Regions from separate parts of the Homo sapiens genome. Here all the other regions are reported to be linked to region 3. The links are microRNA targets in miRTarBase. Many come from high-throughput screens and were not tested one by one. Region 3 holds a microRNA gene; each other region holds the end of a gene's coding sequence.
The links. Region 3 holds the annotated microRNA hsa-miR-3202 (UGGAAGGGAGAAGAGCUUUAAU, at 2,915-2,936, shown strand). A microRNA usually pairs through its seed, bases 2 to 8, with sites in the 3' UTR of a target mRNA and lowers its output. Matches are read on the target gene's strand: a 7mer-m8 pairs with bases 2 to 8, a 7mer-A1 pairs with bases 2 to 7 and ends in A, and an 8mer does both.

Region 1 (4,000 bases), not on the chromosome of region 3:
TAATGCAGAGGGCCTGAGGTGAGCAGGAGCGGCAGAAACCTTTGAGTTTCTGAGGAGCTGAAAATCAAAAGTCCCCTTAACCACAAGATGTTGGTGCTCTGAAGGGAAAGACTGGAGAATTTGAGAGAGATATCTGGGAGTCAGAAAGGTACAGAGAGAATATGGGGATTAGGTCGAGGGAGAATCTAATCTCTTTCCTACTCTTACCCTCCTTCCTAGACATTCCTGAACCCCTGGTATGAGGCCAGCCTGCTGCCCATCTATGCAGTCACTGTTTCCATGGGGCTCTGGGCCTTCATCACAGCTGGAGGGTCCCTCCGAAGTATTCAGCGCAGCCTCTTGTGTAAGGACTGACTACCTGGACTGATCGCCTGACAGATCCCACCTGCCTGTCCACTGCCCATGACTGAGCCCAGCCCCAGCCCGGGTCCATTGCCCACATTCTCTGTCTCCTTCTCGTCGGTCTACCCCACTACCTCCAGGGTTTTGCTTTGTCCTTTTGTGACCGTTAGTCTCTAAGCTTTACCAGGAGCAGCCTGGGTTCAGCCAGTCAGTGACTGGTGGGTTTGAATCTGCACTTATCCCCACCACCTGGGGACCCCCTTGTTGTGTCCAGGACTCCCCCTGTGTCAGTGCTCTGCTCTCACCCTGCCCAAGACTCACCTCCCTTCCCCTCTGCAGGCCGACGGCAGGAGGACAGTCGGGTGATGGTGTATTCTGCCCTGCGCATCCCACCCGAGGACTGAGGGAACCTAGGGGGGACCCCTGGGCCTGGGGTGCCCTCCTGATGTCCTCGCCCTGTATTTCTCCATCTCCAGTTCTGGACAGTGCAGGTTGCCAAGAAAAGGGACCTAGTTTAGCCATTGCCCTGGAGATGAAATTAATGGAGGCTCAAGGATAGATGAGCTCTGAGTTTCTCAGTACTCCCTCAAGACTGGACATCTTGGTCTTTTTCTCAGGCCTGAGGGGGAACCATTTTTGGTGTGATAAATACCCTAAACTGCCTTTTTTTCTTTTTTGAGGTGGGGGGAGGGAGGAGGTATATTGGAACTCTTCTAACCTCCTTGGGCTATATTTTCTCTCCTCGAGTTGCTCCTCATGGCTGGGCTCATTTCGGTCCCTTTCTCCTTGGTCCCAGACCTTGGGGGAAAGGAAGGAAGTGCATGTTTGGGAACTGGCATTACTGGAACTAATGGTTTTAACCTCCTTAACCACCAGCATCCCTCCTCTCCCCAAGGTGAAGTGGAGGGTGCTGTGGTGAGCTGGCCACTCCAGAGCTGCAGTGCCACTGGAGGAGTCAGACTACCATGACATCGTAGGGAAGGAGGGGAGATTTTTTTGTAGTTTTTAATTGGGGTGTGGGAGGGGCGGGGAGGTTTTCTATAAACTGTATCATTTTCTGCTGAGGGTGGAGTGTCCCATCCTTTTAATCAAGGTGATTGTGATTTTGACTAATAAAAAAGAATTTGTAATTGTGGGGGAACTTGGCTTTTAAGGGAGGGGATAGCATGTTAATTGAGATTTCTGTCCTCAGATCTCTCATCCAGCCACTTTCCTAACCTGGCAACCACTGATTTCCAAGCATAGCCTTGGTGCAAGGGCAGAAATCTGGGCTAGTGGTTTAACATGTCTGAAACTTTGGGTTAAGTGTCTTCCCAGAAGCTTATCTTTCCTTCCAGGGGTGGGATAAAAGGAGTTAATCACCCATGCTTCTTTTCCCCATCCTTTGCCCATCTTTACCACCTGAGGGATTCAGGAACTTGCCCACCCTCAAGAGCCTCAAAGGATAGGCCAGAATTAAAGTCAGAAACTTTAATTTCCAAATATATTGATCAAAAATATACAACTTCAACAGCAACTCTTTATCCTAAGGAGAGATCCCGCAGTATATCTAGGGAAAGGGCCATAAAAGTGAGGGGGTAGAGGACTTTGGGGTATATCCCAAACTTCCCCTGCAACTAAACAGAGTTTGTTCTCTGCATTAACAACACAGCGATTTCCTCATTTCCTCCTACATGTTTGGAGAGGCTGAAGGCTCTGCAGTTCTTCCTGGAATGACAGCCTGGGTCCATTCCTCTCTAGGAGATGTCCAGGGGAAGGAGGACATCTGCTTACTACTCCTACAGTGTTTCTGGCCAGATCCTACACCCCATTTTAGAGGCTTCCTGATAGGCATGAAGGGAAGTCATCCACATCCATGGTATCTGAGAAGGAATTTATGCCTCAGTCGTGGCTTGTGCTGAGGTGAAGACCACACTCTTTCGGTTTTCCAGCCTCTTCTTCCTGGAAAGGGGAATGGCTCATGAGAATGACTGCTATCTAAGTGAAGCAGATTAGAGGTGAAATAGGAGAATGCTTTTTAACAGAAAAGAGGGCTGGGCAAGGTGTTTCACACCTATAATCCCAGCACTTTGGGAGGCTGAGGCGGGCGGATCACTTGAGGTCAGGAGTTGGAGACCAGCCTGGGCAATGTAGTGAAAACCCGTCTCTGCTAAAAATACAAAAATTATCTGGGCATGGTGGCACATGCCTGTAGTCCCACCTACTCAGGAGGCTGAGGTGGGAGGACCACTTGAGCCCGGGAGGTGGAGGTTGCAGTGAGCTGTGATAAAGCCATGCACTCCAGCCTCGACAACAGTGAGAACCTGTCTCAAAAAGCGGGTGGCTCATGCCTATAATCCCAGTACTTTGGGAGGCTGAGGCAGGCGAATTGCCTGAGGTCAGGAGTTTGAGACCAGCCTGGCCAATATGGTGAAACCTTGTCTCTACTAAAAGTACAAAAATTAGCTGGGTGTGATGGTGCGTGCCTGTAGTCCCAGCTACTCGGGAGGCTGAGGCAGGAGAATTGCTTGAACCCAGAAGGCAGAGGTTGCAGTGAGCTGAGATTGCACACCACTGCACTCCAGACTGAGTAACAGAGCAAGACTCCGTCTCCCACCTACCAAAAAAAAAAAAAAAAAGAAGAAGGGACTGGAGGAATGGAAAGTAGGGCCTCACCGAATCTTTCTAGCAATGAAATAAACAGCCAGGAGAAGGCAGAGACAGCCAACCAAGATTCCTACACCTAGACTCAGCATTTCACCTGGGGGAGATAAAGGTAAAAGGTGTCAGCCTAGGACTAACATAGATTTTGAGCCTTTCCCCCACTCGGTGAGGACACCTCCCCTCCCCGCATTATCTTATAAGGCTGGCTTACCTGTGGTATACGAGGATCCTGCTGTAAGAGAAGAAAATGGGTCAGTGGGACTTCAGATCCCCATCCCAGCTGGGAGCAGCACTCTCTGCTGCTGTGCCTGGGAGAATCCCCCGGGGGCACCCTGGGGTGGGGGTTGGTTCCCAGTCCAAGCAAGTCCCAGAAACCCCCTCCCCTTTTAGCCTTTTCTTCCCATTGGCTCCCTAGTTCCTGCCATTGTGTCCCCCTCAGTTTCCCATCTCTTCTGAGCCGTGCAGAATCACCTTGGATGAAAGAAGCAAAGACCATGCGCTGATTGAGAGGCTGAAGGGCTCGGTAGTTCTGTACCAGAAGCTTAGAGGGCTCCTCTTCTGTGGAGAACAATGTCCCCTGAAGCTTTTCCAGCTGAGGAGCAGAAGCGTGGGAGAGGTGTTACTTTGGGGAGTGGGAAGGGGTCTGAAGTTACAACTGTGTCTCACCTCACCTCGTTTCTCCACCACTTACCTGTTCCATTGAAATCTGGGACCTTCTATAAAAAACTGTCCAGAGCACACTCTGGTAGCAAGGGGGAGTTGTGAGCGAGCCATTGTAGCGGAAGTACTGCCCCAGCTGTTTGGGGAGCAGCTCTCTTAGGTTGAAGGGAGGCACTGAGGTCTTCTGATCTGGGGAGAACAGACTGGGACTCATCTTCCTTTCAGTGTGCCCTAGCTTACCTAGATAGGGCTCCCAGAAGCAAAATTCCTTGGCTCTATGTAATTGCTTCATCCCAAGGCTTTTAAGGATAGTTTTTGAAAGTCTAATCTTACTTCCTGCTATAGATTTTTAAGG
Region 2 (4,000 bases), not on the chromosome of region 3:
ACATGAAAATAAATATAAAAAATTTTCCTAGTGTATGAACCTAAAAAGCAAAAAGAATTTTTTTTTTTTTCTGAGATGGAGTTTTGTTCTTGTTGCCCAGGCTGGAGTGCAGTGGCACAATCTCAGCTCACTGCAACCTCCACCTCCAGGGTTCAAGTGATTCTCCTGCCTCAGCCTCCCGAGTAGCTGGGATTACTGGCGCCCGCCACCATGCTCAGCTAATTTTTTGTATTTTTAGTAGAGACGGGGTGTCACTATGTTGGCCAGGCTGTTCTCGAACTCCTGACCTCAGGCGATCCACCCGCCTCGGCTTCCCAAAGTGCTGGGATTACAAATCACAGGTGTGAGCCACTGCGCCCGGCCTTAAGAAAGACAATTTAAAAAAATTTATCTGTTATTGAAAATACAGGAAGCCAAATGTTTGGAAGTAGACAGAGGGGATTGTTGTACAACATTGTGAGTATACTAAATGCCATTGAATTAGACTATTTATTTATTTATTGAGAGAGAGTTTTGCTCTTGTCGCCCAGGCTGGAGTGCAATGGCGAGACCTTGGCTCTATAAAAATACAAAAATTAGCCAGGCATGGTGGCACGTGCCTGTAATCCCAGCTACTCGGGAGGCTGAGGCAGGAGAACGGCTTGAACCCGGGAGGCGGAGGTTGCAGTGAGCTGAGATTGCGCCATTCCACTCCAGCCTGGGTGACAAAGTGAGACTCCATCTCAAAAAAAGATAATAATAAATAAGTTAATTAAATAAATAAAAAGGGCAGTTTCTCAAAGTGTGTACTAATTAAAAATCCGGATTTTTGGATTCTTCTTGGGACCTTGTGACTCAGAATCGGGAAAGGTGGAGCCCAACTCTGGATTTTTACCATGGCACCCCGAGGGTTCTGATTCTCCTGAAAAAAATTTGAGATCGGCCAGGCGCGGTGGCTCACGCCTGTAATCCCAGCACTTTGGGGGGCCAAGGTGGGCGGATCAGGAGGTCAGGAGTTCGAGACCAGCCTGGCCAGTATGGCGAAACCTTGTCTTTACTAAAAATACAAAAATTAGCCAGGCGTGGTGGCGTGTGCCTGTAGTCCCAGTTACTCGGGAAGCTGAGGCAGAAGAATTGCTTGAACCTGGGAGGCAGAGGTTGCAGTGAGCCAAGATAGCACCATTGCATTCCAGCCTGGGTGAGAAAGCAAGACTCCATCTCAAAAAAAAAAAAAAAAAAATTGAGATACCTGGGCTTAGAGGTCAAGGAGCAGGTGCACGGGAGTCGGAGGGATGCTGGAGATGGTATTAGGCGGGATGGTTCTTCCGTTCTTCCGCATGAGAAAGTCCAGGTTCTGCAGGGGAGGCTGCCGCCGTGGCGGGGTAAGCAAGGTCACGGGCCTTTTGGCAGTACTTAAAGCTTGTGGGTAAATGGCGATTTAACTAGAAGTCACGAGTCATAACATAGACTAAAGGCCTGTGCGAGCTGTCCCCATCTGGCTCAGCAGCCAGAAGGAACTACTTTGCCTCTGGCTGTCTCTGTCCCAGTCTCTCTGGCCTCTTTAGGTCCCAGATGTGTTGTTTCCTCCTGCCTTCACACGACACTGCCATTGCCCAGAATGCTCATCCCTGGACGGTCCCCGAACTCCCCTCATCTTTCACTTCTCTGCTTAAAGGTCACTTTCTCAGGGAAATCTTCCCCAAACCCAACCTAGCTCAGAACTCCCTGTCACGCGTTCTCCTGGCTCCAGTACTTCTCCTCTGAAGCAAAGATATTGTAGTTAAATAACTAGGGAGGCCTGGCGCGGTGGCTCACACCTGTAATCCCAGCACTTTGGGAGGCCGAGGCGGGTGGACCACTTGAGGTGAGGAGTTTGAGAACAGCCTGACCAACATGGCGAAACCCCATCTCCACTAAAAATACAAAAATTAGCCGGGAGTTGTGGCGGGCGCCTGTAATCCCAGCTACTCCGGAGGCTGAGGCAGGAGAATCACTTGTACCTGGGAGGCGGAGGTTACAGTGAGCCGAGATGGCACCATTGCACTCCAGCCTGGACGACAGAGCAAGACTCTGTCTCAAAAGAAAAAAAAAAAAAAGGGAATGAATTAATGTGTTTTTGTTGTTGTTGTTGTTGTTGTACTGCTATACTATGCCTGGTACTTTGTAGGGACTCAAATCCAGATTGTTTGTGGAATGCATGAAGGAGCTTTAGGAGAAAGATTGGGCTTCAGGAGTGGAAGCAGATGATGGAGGTGAGAAATGTTCGTGGAGTGATGCTACCTCCCTCCAGCCCAGCCTGGGGCTTCGGTCAAGCCTCAGGGAGTCCCTGATGAATATCCCATGAACAGCACTAAGATGTGGTCCCTAGGACAGGGGCCCACGGCAGCATGACGTTCTTGCTGCCCAAGCCTCAGCTTCTGTGTTAGAATGTAGGTACCAGACTCCAGAGACGTCACGTGGCTTGTCTGGTGAGGCCTGCGGTTGTGGCACCGCTGAGCCACAGGAGCAGATGGCTCGAGCAGCCATAAGGAGCAGTGGAAATGAACGCGACTCGGTCACAACAGGTCACAGGTGGTCATGTGCGTCGGCCGCAACAGGGAAGGGCCTGCCCTGGCTAGCTCCCGTGAGCATCTGTGTGCAGGCGAGTTAGTTTAGTTACTGTGACCTCTAGAAATGACTAAGTTCACTTTGTGGCCTTATCAAGCCTCACCCTTGAGTTTGGACTAAGTCAAGTTTTGATGTTTACCCTGGAACACAGCCACAGCACAGTCATCCAATAAACATTTGCTGATAGCCTCCGTGTCAGGTGGCTTTTGGGTGCAGAAGAGAGACTGGGTCCTCCCCCACAAGCTAACAGAATCATGGATAAGCACACCATACACTCTCTAAACACTACAGAGAAAACACACACTCATGCTTAGTAAAAGATTTATTTTCTTCTTTATGCTCAGAAACAAAGAAACGGCCTTGTCCCCAAAGGGTCTCCTCTTGAAGGAATGGGGGCAGAGAGAGTGATAATGGGAGGTGTTGGTGTGAGGTTGAGAGTAGGAGTTTTGTCTCCCCCTTTCCCTCCTGTCACTCCTCTTTTCACTGTCCCCTTCCAGAAAATTTAGGTATGAACACAGCTTGCCACCCACGGCGGGGCTGGAGAAGCAGAGCTGCAGTCAAAAAATTAATGCCCACATTCAGCAAGAGAGGGTCCAGTGTGTATCTTGGGGGGATGGGGGAGAGAGTGTGAAGGGATTGGTTGAAGAAGCTTCCAGGTGAGGGGAAGGGAAGAGGGGCTGGGACAATCCCCCATTGACAGTGGGGATCTTAATCCTGCCCTCACCTCTCCCAACCCCATCCCCTCCCTTCTTCCCACCCCGCTTCCTAGCAGAGTTGATCATCATAGTCGTCATCCTTCATCCCCTTCAGCCGAAGCCGGGCAAAGTCCTCAAACACAATGTCATCATCTGTGGCATAGCTTGGTGGTGGGAAAGAGGGTTGTGAGGTGAGGGCTTCTGACTCTTGTCCCAGCCTCCCACTCCCTGCCCTCCCCGAAGCTAGGCCTCTGGGACAGAGGCGTTCGAACAGCAGTGGGACCAGAGGTATTTACAGGAAGGGACAAAGAAAAGGCAGCAAGAGGCAGCCTCACAAGGCTAAGGCATCTTGATTTGATGCTACAATCCGCTTCTCCCCACCAAAAGCAAGGAAGAGGTATGAGGGCAGATTTGAATGTTATAGGAATCTTTGTCCCAAGAGGGTCAAGTAGGGGAATGAGTTTCTTACTTGGTATCAAATTCAATGAGGTTGGTGTCCACAGGGACATCTGTCTCCGGAGCGGCTGGGGGGACGGGAAGAGGGGGTGTGGGGGTGGGTGCTGGAAGGGCCAGTTTTCCTCCACTGGCCCTGCTTCAGGCCCTCCCTCTGAGGGCTTGGGGTGGGTAGTGTGCTCACCTGACTGGGGTCTGGGGAGGGGGATGTGGTCGTGGGGCTTGGGGTGCATAAGAACAAAAGGCAGCTCCACAGAGACATCCCT
Region 3 (4,136 bases):
ACAGAGCAAGAGTCTGTCTCAAAAAAACAAAATAAAATGAAGTAATAATAAAATAGTGCTAAGTGGTCTGCATATACAGATACTTTTTTTTTTTTTGAGACGGAGTCTCATTCTGTCGCCCAGGCTGGAGTGCAGTGGCACGATCTTGGCTCACTGCAACCTCCGCCTCCCAGGTTTGAGCGATTCTCCTGCCTCAGCCTCCCAAGTAGCTGGAACTACAGGCATGAGCCATCACGCCTGGCTAATTTTTGTATTTTAGTAGAGATGGGGTTTCACCATATTGGCCAGGGTGGTCTTGAACTCTTGACCTCAACTGATCCACCCACCTCAGCCACCCAGAGTGCTGGGATTACAGACGTGAGCCACCACGCCTGGCCACTTTTTTTTTTTTTTTTTTTTTTTTTGGGGGGGAGAGGGAGTTTCGCTCTTGTTGCCCAGGCTGGAGTGCAGTGGCGTGATCTCGGCTCACTGCAACCTCCGCCTCCCGGGCTCAAGCGATTCTCCTGCCTCAGCCTCCCGAGTAGCTGGGATTATAGGCATGTGCCACCACACCTGGCTAATTTTTTGTTTTGTTTTGTTTTGTTTTGTTTTGTTTTGTTTTGTTTTGTTTTTCTGAGATGAAGTCTCACTCTGCCGCCCAGGCTGGAGTGCAATGGCACGATCTTGGCTCACTGCAACCTCTGCCTCCTGGGTTCAAGCAATTCTCCCGTCTCAGCCTCCCAAGTAGCTGGGATTACAGGCGTGCGCCACCACGCCTGGTTAATTTTTTTGTATTTTTGTAGAGACAGGGTTTCACCATGTTGGCCAGACTGGTCTGGAACTCCTGACCTCAAGTGATCCACCCGCCTCTGCCTCCCAAAGTGTTGGGATTATAGGCGTGAGCCACCGTGCCCGGCCTAATTTTTTTGTATTTTTGGTAGAGACGGGGTTTCACCACATTGGCTAGGCTGGTCTCAAACTCCTGACCTCAGATGATCCACCTGCCTCGGCCTCCCAAAGTGCTAGGATTATAGGTGTGAGCCACTGCGCCTAGCTTTTTTTTTTTTAGAGATAGGGTCTTGCTCTGTGGCCCATAGCTCACTGCAGCCTCCATCTCCTGGGCTCAAGTGATCTTCCTGCCTCAGCCTCCTGAGGAGCTGGGACTATAGGTGCACCACCATGCCTGGCTAATTTTTATTTTATTTTTTAAATTTAATTTTATGTATTTTGTGTAGAGACAGGGTCTCACTTTGTTGCCCAGGCTGGTCTCAAACTCCTGGACTCAAGCAGTCCTCTCACCTTGGCCTTCCAAATTGCTGGGATTACAGATGTGAGCCACCATGCCCAGCTACATATGCTTTTTGATGTATAACAGGGTAATGTCCAGATAAACCCATCATAAGTCGAAAATATAGGAACTGGACTTTCAACTTAAGAGGGGTTTAGCTGGGTGCAGTGGCTCACTCCTGTAATCTCAGGACTTTGGGAGGCCAAGGCAGGAGGATCACTTGAGGCCAAGAGTTCGAGACCAGGCTGGGCAACATGGTGAGACCCTGTCTCTACAATTTTTTTTTTTTTTTTTTTTTAGATGGAGTCGCGCTCTGTCGCCCAGGTTGGAGTGCAGTGGCGCGATCTCAGCTCACTGCAAGCTCCGCCTCCAGGGTTCACGCCATTCTCCTGCCTCAGCCTCCCGAGTAGCTGGGACAACAGGCGCCCACCACCACGCCTGGCTATTTTTTGTATTGTTTTAGTAGAGACGGGGTTTCACCGTGTTAGCCAGGATGCTCTCGATCTCCTGACCTCGTGATCCACCCGCCTTGGCCTCCCAAAGTGCTGGGATTACAGGCATGAGCCACCATGCCTGGCCCAAAATTTTTTTAACAAAAATTAGCAGGGCAGGCCGGGCGCTGTGGTAGGGAGGCTGAGGTAGGAGAATGGCGTGAACCCGGGAGATGGAGCTTGCAGTGAGCCAAGATCGCACCACTGCACTCCAGCCTGGGCAACAGAGCAAGACTCCGTCTCAAAAAAAAAAAAAAAAATTAGCAGGGCAAGGTGGTGGTATATCCCTGGTCCCAACTACTTGGGAGGCTGAGGCAGGAGGATAGCTTGGGCCCAGGAGGTGGAGGCTGCAGTGAGCTGTGATTGTGCCACTGCACCCCAGCCTGGGCAACAGAGCAAGACCCCCGTGTCTAAATAAAAATACCCAGGCCATGGCAGCAGAAAGCAAGGAAGAAGCCACGTGGAAGCCCTCCTGGCGCTTCTTCCAGGGAGGTGAGCAGAGAGCACCTGGGGCCAGGAGGCGGCATGCCTGGGTTTCTGCTCCTCCTCACTGTAACTTTCAGCCAAGTCAAACTGCTAGAGTTTCAGTTTCTTTATCTGTGAAATGCCGGGGCTGGCACAGATGGTTTCTAAGATCCCTCCCAGGCCTGGAACTTCTAAGCGATTAGGTCAAAGGTGAGCTAACCGGGCTGGGCACAGTGGCTCATACCTGTGAATCCCAGCACTTTGGGAGGCTGAGGCGGGTGGATCACTTGAGGTCAGGAGTTCAAGACCAGCCTGGCCAACGTGGTGAAACCCCAACTCTACTAAAAATAGAAAAGTTAGCCGGGCATGGTGGTACACGCCTCTAATCACCGCTACTAGGGAGGCTGAGGCAGGAGAATCACCTGAACCTGGGAGGCGGAGGTTGCAGTGAGCCAAGATTGTGCCACTGCACTCTAGCCTGGGCAACAGAGTGAGACTCCGTCTCAAAAAAAAAAAAAAAGGTGCACAAACCGAGGCCCAAGACAGTTAAGGTGCAAGATCACATGGTTAGTAAGTGGGAGAGCCAAGGTTTGAACAGTCTGGCATCAGCTGACCAGGAACTGGAGCCCACCCTTCTCTCTCCCTGAGCCCGCCTACCCGCCCACCCTCTTGAGTGCGAAATTTATTAATATGGAAGGGAGAAGAGCTTTAATGATTGGAGTCATTTTCAGAGCATTAAAGCTCTTCTCCCTTCCATATTAATGTATTTCTCAGCTACTAGGGCTCACTTACAGCACCAGTGGCCCCAAAGCAGTTGACAGTCAGTGGTAATTAAATTGTCTCTCTGGTTCTGTGACTGAAGGAGACAGAAGGCTTTATGGTGGCCTGAGGAAAGAAGGTGATTTGGGGCTTGGCACTTCAGGAGAGGGCAGGCGAGTGAGCCAGGGAAGCTGGCCTGGGAAGCCTGCGGGTCACCCCCTTGCCTCCCGGCCTGGTGCTTGAGTGGCAGACGGTGAATCCTCCTCCTCCTCCATCCCCCACCTTGTGTCAGAGGCCAGAGCTCGGACTCCATCTAATGGTCTCTAGTTCAGCTGGGTATTTGGTGAAAAGGGCTTTGGGGCTGGAGACGTCCACTTTTATAACACACTGACATGGGAAGGCGCATTCTGAGTTGTAATGACAGAGCTAGACAGGTCTTGTCTGTAGATGCAGTGGCTTTAAGGAAACTAGGACGATGGGCAGGATTTTCCTAGGTGCCAGGAGAAAGGGGTGATAGAGGATTCTAGAGGCTTGAGAGAGTCAGTGTGCAGCGGTTTCACTCTGATTTGCTTCTCCAGTGAAGATGGTTGGTAGCTCCTGAGGCCGGGGGTCAGGAACATGGAGGCGGTGCTGGGGACGGTTTGTTTTCTAACCACACTCCTTTTGTAACCACAAAGGAAAAAGGCAGAACGTTCCTCCGCTGGCGCCAGCCAATCAGCAGGACTCCTGCCTTCCTTCGGGGCAAGGTCGCAGCATCTGCCTCGGAAATCACGAAATCACGGGGCTTCTTTCTGCTGGCTCAGCCGGGAGGCCCAGAGTGTTCTGCAGAGGCTGCGTATTGAAGGCTGCTCTCTGAAGCTCCCTGCCCCAGGTCACGCCGCCGGTTCCAGATGAATCCAGAGTGGGGGCAGGCCTTCGTGCACGTGGCCGTGGCCGGTGGCCTCTGTGCCGTGGCTGTGTTCACGGGCATTTTCGACAGTGTTTCCGTGCAAGTGGGCTATGAGCACTACGCCGAGGCGCCCGTGGCCGGCCTCCCTGCCTTCCTGGCCATGCCGTTCAACTCACTCGTGAACATGGCCTACACGCTGCTGGGGCTGTCGTGGCTGCACAGGGGCGGCGCGATGGGGCTGGGTCCCCGCTACCTGAAGGACGTG
Region 4 (4,000 bases), not on the chromosome of region 3:
AGGTGGCAAATAAACCTGGGCAATTTTGTTTATACAAAAAATAGAAAAAAAGTTCCAAGTTTTTCTTTCTTCCCTCATTCTTTTATTTTTGAAAAGTGCCTTCACGTTGCATTTTTATTGGAGGAAAACCTCGCTCGTTCAGTAAGCATAATCTGATTAACACAGAGAACGGCAAGCACATATAAAATGATTTTTGTAGGTCATCTGCAAGTTCATGGAAGAGCTGGGCCTAGAATGTGGGTTGTTTCCTGGCCTGTCTAGTCTTTGTAGCTGTGAGACATAGATTACAGCCTATGCTAATTCAAACCTTTTAAATAAAATGTTCCTTATCTCAAACTAGCTGGTCCTAATGGACCAGTAAATAATATTCACTTTCAGTCTCTTCTGGCTTCCTCTGTAGAGGCTCTAGGTTATGACAGAGTTAGCTGTGAGTATGAAGGAAATAGAAGTCAATGTCCAATCGTGGCTAAATTGGAGGAAAGAAAACAATGGAATCTGAGGGGAATCAAACAATAGTTAGGGAATGTTCTATTTTCTTAAATTCCCTACTAGCTTTCTCACCCTCCTGTAGTGATTGCCAGGTCCCTCTAGCCTCAGTAGTGGGAAAGGGAGTCATTTACTGAACACCTACCCTGTGCCATTTTACATACAGCTCACTTAAATTTCACCAAGTAGGCAGCCTTCAACATCACAGGTGATTCAATCAAAGTAATTTGCCAGGGGCCGCCAGCTTCAGCCGAGCTAAAGCTGGTGCCTAGGCCTATTAACCCGAGCCCATGCCTTCATGTATCACTGCATAGTACAGAATGGCAGCACATACTGTGTGTAGACATTTTTCTACACACGTGGTCAGCCAAGAGTAAAAGCCTCTGCATCAGAAAGCAAGAATCTCCTATAGCAAGTAGAAGTGGTGATGAGGGAAGAGGCCAGAGTTGTTTAAGGCTCCCAAAGTCCTTATGGTCTAAAGGCTAAGATCCTAAAAGTGCTAGTTTAGTACTGGAAATCTGAAAACTCAATGGTTTTTCCATACTGAGACCCTTCCTTTAGCAGGATATAGCCTGGGCCCATCTCTTCCTCTGCCTATCCTTGTAGGACATGCTCACTCCAAGCTCTGGAATAGGTCTGTCTTTGGAAACCACTCAAACTAAGATGTCACTGACTGCCAGAGCATGGACCCCATTTCCAATGAGAAAACTTGTCCTGCTCTCCCCACCCAGCCCTGCCCTTCCACCATGTTATGCAAGTCTTCGGTTTCCAGACAATTCATGGCACTTTCCTTCTCCCTAACAGTTCCAGGCCTAGGTGAGGTGTGGTTGACAAGATGATCCCATTCGTCCTTTACACAAGCCCTCCCACACCCACAGGCACTTCCTCCTTCTGCCAAAACAAACTTTATTGCACCAAAAAGGAAAACAAAAAAAACAAAAAAACTTCATTTATATACAGTCAGATATAAAGACATCTCTTTGACTCCTGTGCATATATTTCCTCAACTCAAGATTAGGGCATAAAAGTCAGGCTGCTATGCCAGACATGCTCTGCCCTATGGCAGGGCCAAGGAGAGGATTGTCACTTGAAAGTGGGAACACTTAAATGGATGACAGACAACACTGGACCCACAGACCAAGAGCATTCTTCTAAGCCCTGGAGTAGCTCGAGGAATGGAAGAGGGAAATTGGAAGCAGGGTCCCTTTTCGATCTTCATGTGAAGAGACCCAGCCTCTTCAAGGGTATCCAAGATAAACTTCCGTTCCCCAAGCCCACCAATCCCTGTCCAGTTCCTTTGCTTCCTGCCCTCCCAAATAGGACATTCTCCTTTGTGCCCAGCCCCCCTTTGCACAGATCCTCCAAGGGGAGTCCCATGATCCACAAGGCAGAGACCTTCATAGCAGAGGGCAGGGCAGGTACACACTATCCTCTCCCTTATGCATGGCTGGACACTGACTGAGGCCCTGCATCACAAGAATCGCCAATACCCACTGGGAGCCATAACAATAAATCTGGAAGTACGGGGAGAACATATCAAAAAGGGGAAGGATGGATTCCCTTGATGCCCAGGATTACAGGGCACCTAAAGCACATTTTTTTTTTTCTGAGCCAACCAGCTAAAGGATCACTGCAGCTAAATACAGATAGAGAAGCAACAAAGCCAGGCAAATACCCATCAGAGACAGTGACAAGAGCAGCTGGGGGCACGGGGGAGGCGGAAGGAAGAGAAAGAAGGGGAGGAGCCTCCAGAGTCCCAGCCCCAACCCCCTCTGCCATTGGCTACCCTTGCTCCCCAAAAATCCCTGGGGTTGAAGTGAGGAGGACTACAGGCTGGGGTGAAAATACACAAGGACAGCCCAACAAAATACAACAAGGACTAGCATCAGTCTCCCCCTTACTCCACCCCCAAGAAAAATACCCTTATTGTGACTAGTATTTATGAAAATCTGTAAGAGACTATTCTATGTAGTGGCTCTAATCCCATATACACAGCAGCTGCCTGTGTTGGGAACTTTTCAAATCAGTGATTGCGGGAACAAACAGTATTTTCAGCTTCTTACGGTGCCATGCAGGCTTTACCAAGACCTTGGTTAAGTCCCAGTCACATTTACTTTCTGTCTTACATCTAGAAAAGGGTGAGGAAAGAGGGGAGGGGAGAAAGGTGCTCAGGTGCTAGGTAAAGCTTACTGATCAGCAGCCTAGACTCCACCACTGTTCCTTCTCTTTGGTCTGTCTAGAACAGTGACTATAAATTAGGAAAAACAAAATTATGCTGGCCTGTGGGAAATAATGGGGGAAGGAAGGCAGGGAGGAAAAGGGCATTGGGAAGCCCTGCTTCAAGACTGAAGACAGACAAATAGACAACCACCCAGACTGCTTAAGTGTCACAGACAGCCCCCACCCCAAGCTCCCTTCCAGGTATCCCCATAAATCATTTGGGCACACTCCCTCTTGGAATTGCAATTTCCATCTTCCACTTATCCCTAAGGAGCTGGCCCTGTGGAGAGGTGTGTTGGTTGTTTTGTTTTTGCCAAAGGCCCTCGCTCTAGGTGCTCCTGTAAAGGTACCTTGGCCCCTGATACGGGATGAATGGATGAACGAAGCCCCAGATGCTCCAGTGCCAAGGAGGTCAGACCGGGAACAGGCCCCCACTCCCACACCCTGGGATCGGAGCTTGCTTGGTTCTTGCCATCTTGCAGGATGACTTCGAGTCTGGAGGGAGATACACAGTGCCTCTCCATCCCTGGGGTGGGGGGAAGGGATTCTGCTGGGACTCTTGAGTGGGGGAAGGGGAGATGGGAGCAGGGTCTAAACCCTCAGGCTCCCATGAAGGTCTGTCTCTGTCCCAGATGAACTGCTATCAGAGTCCATTTCTGCATTCTCATTATGGAGCCTCTCCAGCACTTTCTGACGTATCAGTCCCAGGCGCATCAAGAGGGACTGGTAGTCAAAGTGGCCCCGCTTCTCTCCAAAAGGGTCCTGTGGGGAAAGGAGACAAGGGGATGGAAGATTCAAGTCTGGGTGGCTGATCCTAGAGAAAGCAACTTCGGGCCCATGTGAAATGAAAGCTCAACTTCTGAGCCATGGGAGCAGGAAGGCCTAACAGCACAGGCAGTCCCAAACAGCAGGCAAAATAACCTTTGCTTAAAAATATGACACCTGGGCCAGGCGCGGTGGCTCACACCTGTAATCCCAGCACTTTGGGCGGCCGAGGCGGGCGGATCACCTGAGGTTGGGAGTTTGAGACCAGCCTGACCAACATGGTGAAACCCTGTCTCTACTAAAAATGCAAAATTAGCCGGGTGTCGTGGCGCATGCCTGTAATCCCAGCTACTCGGGAGGCTGAGGCAGGAGAATCACTTGAACCCGGGAGGCGGAGGTTGCAGTCAGCTGAGATCGAGATCGCACCATTACACTCCAGCCTGGGCAACAAGAGTAAAACTTGGTCTCAAAAAAAAAAAAAAAAAAGACACTCTTACCGCCCCAAATAGGTGTAGCTTGGGCTAGAGTG
Region 5 (4,000 bases), not on the chromosome of region 3:
TCTGCCAGTGCCTCCGACCCCCACCTTCCATTTTTACACCCAGCAAATTCCTGGGGCCTGTGGCTCCATCTGATAGCTCTCACCCATTTCTGCCACTGTGGCCCTACCTGACTTTCCCCATGTCAGCTTTACTCCAGTCCCATCCTCGATGCCCCAGCCCCATCTCTACCACCACGGGCACATCTCTCCCCACGGCCATGTCCCTGTCCCCCATGGACCCATCTCTGACCCCACATGGCACAGCCACATCTGTGCCATGGACCCATCTCTGCCCCTGCCCCATGGACCTGCCTCTGCTCCACTGCGGTCTCTCGCCAGGCCCTACCCCGATCACCTCTGCCTCACCCTGGGTGCCCACGGTTCCACTCCATATCCCTGCCCCAGAGGCCTGGAGGCGGCCCCACGACCATCCACTCTTTGATATCCTGGTGGTGAGGGCTGAAAGGGCGGAACTGCCCACCAGGCCAGATGGGAAGGGAGGATGGACAGACGGTAAGACAGGGACGCACAGATCAGGGAGAAGAGCCCGGGGACACAGGACGGACAGCAGGTGGCCATGGCCCCACCCCTTCATGCCCTCCTCCTCCCCAATCAGGGACCCTCATGTGCAACCCCCTTACCCGGCACTGCCTGGGATGTGGGGTCCCCATCACCGGCCGCTCAGCCCTGCCGCCCACTGCGCCCTGGCTCTCCGGCAAGCCGCTTCCTCCCTCCCTCTTCCTGGGGCGGCTCCTCAGCTCCTCCCGCCGCCCTTGCTGGCCTCCAGGGGCCGCTCCACCCCGCGCACGCCCGCTGGGGGCCTGGAGTGGCAGAGACCCCCCTCTCTGCTCCTGGCAATGGGCGGGGGCCACTCTGGGCCCCAGCGGCTCCCTCCACGAGGAGTGAGGCTCCCTGGAGTTGGTCTGGCCCCATGTGACCCCCTCCTCCCAGCAGGGCGGGAGCAGCCCCCTTCCCCCCCAGGATCGGGCCTCTTGCCTCATTAATAAAGCGGATAAAATCTAAACACTGGAAAATGTGAGCGTCGTCTGGGGCGGGCTGGGGCAGCTGCAGGGGGTGCCACTGCCCCCCTCCCTGGGGCTTTGGAGCTAGAGAGGCTAACTCCAATTCTGTGGGGCCAGCAATGCCCCCCCTGCCCTGCCAAAGCCTTCGTGGATGTCGGGGTGGGTGCTGGTGGGCAGGGCCTCGGGTAGACCAGCTTGGGTCAGGCCCAGCCTGGCCAGGGGATCCGCCTATTTATACAGGGGCTTAAGCCCCGGCTAGGGCCACAGCGAGTCATATCCTGGGAGGAGGCTGAAAGGGGGCAGGGGAACCAGGAGGCCTGGCGACCTGGGGACTCTCCCCAGTGACTGGCTCCTTTAAGATGGGCTGAGTGACACCTGTGACACACGTCCTAAGACACAAAGACTCGCCTCCTGCCCTGAGAAGTAGGGTCACACTGGCACAGCCTCACACCCTAAGACATACAATCCTGTCACTTACCACTCAGTTTCATCCTGTCCCCATCTCAGCACAGCCAGGTTGCTGCCGCCACATCCCTGAACTCAGGGTCTTACCCCCAGCGCCGGGACGCACCCAGAGTTACTGCCTCAATTCCAGCCCCTCCCAACACCCCAAAATGCAGCCCTCTGAGATGATCACCCGAACCACCCTCCTTAGTGCTGGGAAATAGGGTCTCACTTGGCACCCCGAGAGATACACACACGCACACACACTCCTTATTGCCAAAACTGCCCCTGACCACACTCTGTTTGACTTTCAATGACCCCTCAACAATCCCAGACAGGCCCCACCAGCACACTCCGTACACCCAAGGCACAAGAAGTGACACCCCCCGCCGCTGGACACCAGAGACCTAGCTGGCCACCCCCACCCTCACCCAGAAACAGCAACGCCCTGAGACACACACACCTGCACCCCTAGAGACCCCTAGACCTAGCCAGCACCCCCACCCAGGAAACAGCAACACCCCGAGACATACCCTGACACCCCTGAACACCCCAAGGCCTAGCCAAGCACCCCTCCTTGCCCCAGAAACAGCACCCTAAGACACACACCCCCACACCCCGGGACACCCCAAGACACAGTCACTCCGTTGCACTCCCCACCACCAGACACTGCCAGTTACACCTGCAATTGCCCTGGAACACAGAGCCGGTTATCACATCCCTTACCCACGACACAGCCCTCCCTCATTGCGTCACGAGCCATCAACACTCTTGATAGACTCACAGTGCTACCCAACACCCGAGACACACATAGCCACACCCCTTCACCACCGCAAGCGGCTCCCAGCACAGACACCTGAGGAGCCCACAGGTGCCCGGGGATGCCCTGAGTCACCAGGACTGCGGCTCCCCGACTCCACCCGGGTCTGTCCACCAACACCCAGCCCCCAGGGTCTTCCCCTTTTCCCCCTTCCCCTCTTCCTGGTGGCCCAGTGCCCGCCCGCCTTTTGGAACGAGGATTGCAAGCTGGCCTCGGACTTCCCCACAGCCTCTCGGCTCACCCCCAAGCATTCCTGTGGGGCCTTCTGGCCCAGCGCCCCTTGCTTCAATCCCTTCCCTTCCCTCCAGGTCTGGCCAGGGTCCCACCCCGCCTTTCCCTGATCACCCTCAATCCTCGAAGATGAGTGGGTTGTCAAAACAAGTATGCTGGGTTTATGTCTAGGACAAAGCAGGGTGCCCCATGGACGCCTGCGTGTCCAGCATTGGGCCGGGTGGGGTGGGGGCTGCCTCACGCCTGCCCCCAACCTCCCGGTGTAGGGGTGGGGCTCTGGCAGGCCTGAGGTTCCATCTTTCTATTTCCAAGCCAGGTTTCAATGCCCTGGTGCTCCCCACGGTCCGGGGGTTGTCACCAGCTGCAGACAGCAGCCTTGTGAAGCTCCAGGGGGTAGGAGGCCTTGTGGGAGAGGGGGCAGGATTTGAACCCTCAGTAGTCCAGGAAGCTCTGGCCCTGCCTGGAAGCCTGGTGGCCTGCAGCCAGAAGGAACAGTGGGAGGGGGCAGGTGGCTTGGTGCCAGCTCCTAATTCAATTTGGAGCCTGCGGAAGATGGATTTCAGCTGCTGAATTCTTTCTCAGCCCCAATCTTCCCCCTCTCCCACCCCGAAGCCACACAGGTCCAACAGCAGATAGATTCTTTATGTTCAAGACAGCAAATTCAGATACAAAAACCCACCGCCATCGTCCCTCCCTCCCTCCTGCTCTGGGCCAGGGATGGGCCTGGAAGGAGAGATGGGAGGTGGGGAGGAGGTTGCGGGGTTCACAGCAGACTCGTGTCAAATGCGGAGGTAACAGGCTCCACAGGGAGGGGGCTCCTCTCAGGAGGGGTGAGGGCATTATTGCATTTGCTGGGGGGAAGGACAACCCTCTCCCCTGTATTCCCTGCGTCAGGAAACTAGGAAGGTCATGACCCCCAAACAGAACCCAAGGCCCCAGGGAGACAGAGGGACCAGTTTGGCAGCTGATGGTGGAAAGTGGTGGAGGCGGGGGTGGCCGCCCAATTTGGCTGATCCCTCCCCTCCCTGTGCCTGACCCAGCTGAGGTAGGTGGGGAACAGGGCACAGGGGGGCCGGGGACCCCGGCCAGACTGGGAACCAGGGAGGGGATGGTACCGATTGGAGCGGGGCAGGGGGCCTGGCCCCACCTCCCCTCACCATCGTCCTTGGGCTGCTGAGCTAGGCTCAGGCTGGAGGCTCGGGTCCTGACGTCAGTGTCCCTGCTGGGGGCCCCCACCAGGTTGCGCCCGGGTCATCATCGCAGGGTCCGGGGGCAGTCCTAGTAGCGGCCGACCTTGGCGTCCCCAATGGCGCCCCAGACGTCAAAGACGAACTCGTCAGGGAAGGCAAAGTCACCCAGCCGTTCGTCCAGGGCCTCGGCCAGCTCATCCGGGTTCCTTTTGTCCTTTCCCAGCTCCACCATGGTGGCCGCTATTGGGGGAGGGGTCAGAACGGAGGCACAAATGACACCAGGGACCAAGGGGCTCAGGGTGGATTCGGCCCCC

Region 1: miRTarBase lists APH1A as a target of hsa-miR-3202. The part of its 3' UTR that is shown has no 7-base or 8-base seed match.
Region 2: miRTarBase lists ARRB2 as a target of hsa-miR-3202. Seed matches in the 3' UTR shown: 7mer-m8 at 3,249-3,255.
Region 4: miRTarBase lists UBE2Z as a target of hsa-miR-3202. Seed matches in the 3' UTR shown: 7mer-m8 at 3,275-3,281 and 7mer-m8 at 3,244-3,250.
Region 5: the mRNA of GIPC1 is a reported target of hsa-miR-3202. Seed matches in the 3' UTR shown: 7mer-A1 at 3,221-3,227.

What each region holds. Positions count from the first base shown.
Region 1 is chr1:150,262,876-150,266,875 of GRCh38, reverse strand. It overlaps APH1A (aph-1A gamma-secretase subunit), which reads left to right. Exons shown (of 7, transcript NM_001077628.3): 6 at 220-343; 7 at 682-1,472. The coding sequence ends at 746. It overlaps CA14 (carbonic anhydrase 14), which reads right to left. Exons shown (of 11, transcript NM_012113.3): 7 at 3,677-3,834; 8 at 3,457-3,577; 9 at 3,197-3,217; 10 at 2,998-3,082; 11 at 1,798-2,283. The coding sequence ends at 2,217. Among named protein-coding and RNA genes, the nearest start is that of SNORD13C, 3.2 kb to the right of the region's middle.
Region 2 is chr17:4,720,391-4,724,390 of GRCh38, reverse strand. ARRB2 (arrestin beta 2) reads right to left here. Exons shown (of 15, transcript NM_004313.4): 13 at 3,919-3,998; 14 at 3,751-3,805; 15 at 2,894-3,445. The coding sequence ends at 3,352. Among named protein-coding and RNA genes, the nearest start is that of MED11, 9.0 kb to the left of the region's middle.
Region 3 is chrX:153,978,191-153,982,326 of GRCh38, forward strand. MIR3202-1 (microRNA 3202-1) reads left to right here and starts at 2,907; the gene lies at 2,907-2,987. It overlaps TMEM187 (transmembrane protein 187), which reads left to right. Exons shown (of 2, transcript NM_003492.3): 2 at 3,660-4,136. The coding sequence starts at 3,873. MIR3202-2 (microRNA 3202-2) reads right to left here and starts at 2,986; the gene lies at 2,908-2,986. RefSeq lists an enhancer at 2,284-2,393.
Region 4 is chr17:48,926,432-48,930,431 of GRCh38, reverse strand. It overlaps UBE2Z (ubiquitin conjugating enzyme E2 Z), which reads right to left. Exons shown (of 7, transcript NM_023079.5): 7 at 1,376-3,468. The coding sequence ends at 3,298. It overlaps SNF8 (SNF8 subunit of ESCRT-II), which reads left to right. Exons shown (of 8, transcript NM_007241.4): 8 at 1-1,116. Among named protein-coding and RNA genes, the nearest start is that of SNF8, 16 kb to the left of the region's middle.
Region 5 is chr19:14,474,642-14,478,641 of GRCh38, forward strand. GIPC1 (GIPC PDZ domain containing family member 1) reads right to left here. Exons shown (of 9, transcript NM_005716.4): 9 at 3,121-3,926. The coding sequence ends at 3,775. PTGER1 (prostaglandin E receptor 1) reads right to left here and starts at 713. Exons shown (of 3, transcript NM_000955.3): 1 at 621-713. RefSeq lists enhancers at 698-1,366, 3,706-4,000 and a silencer at 1,783-2,265.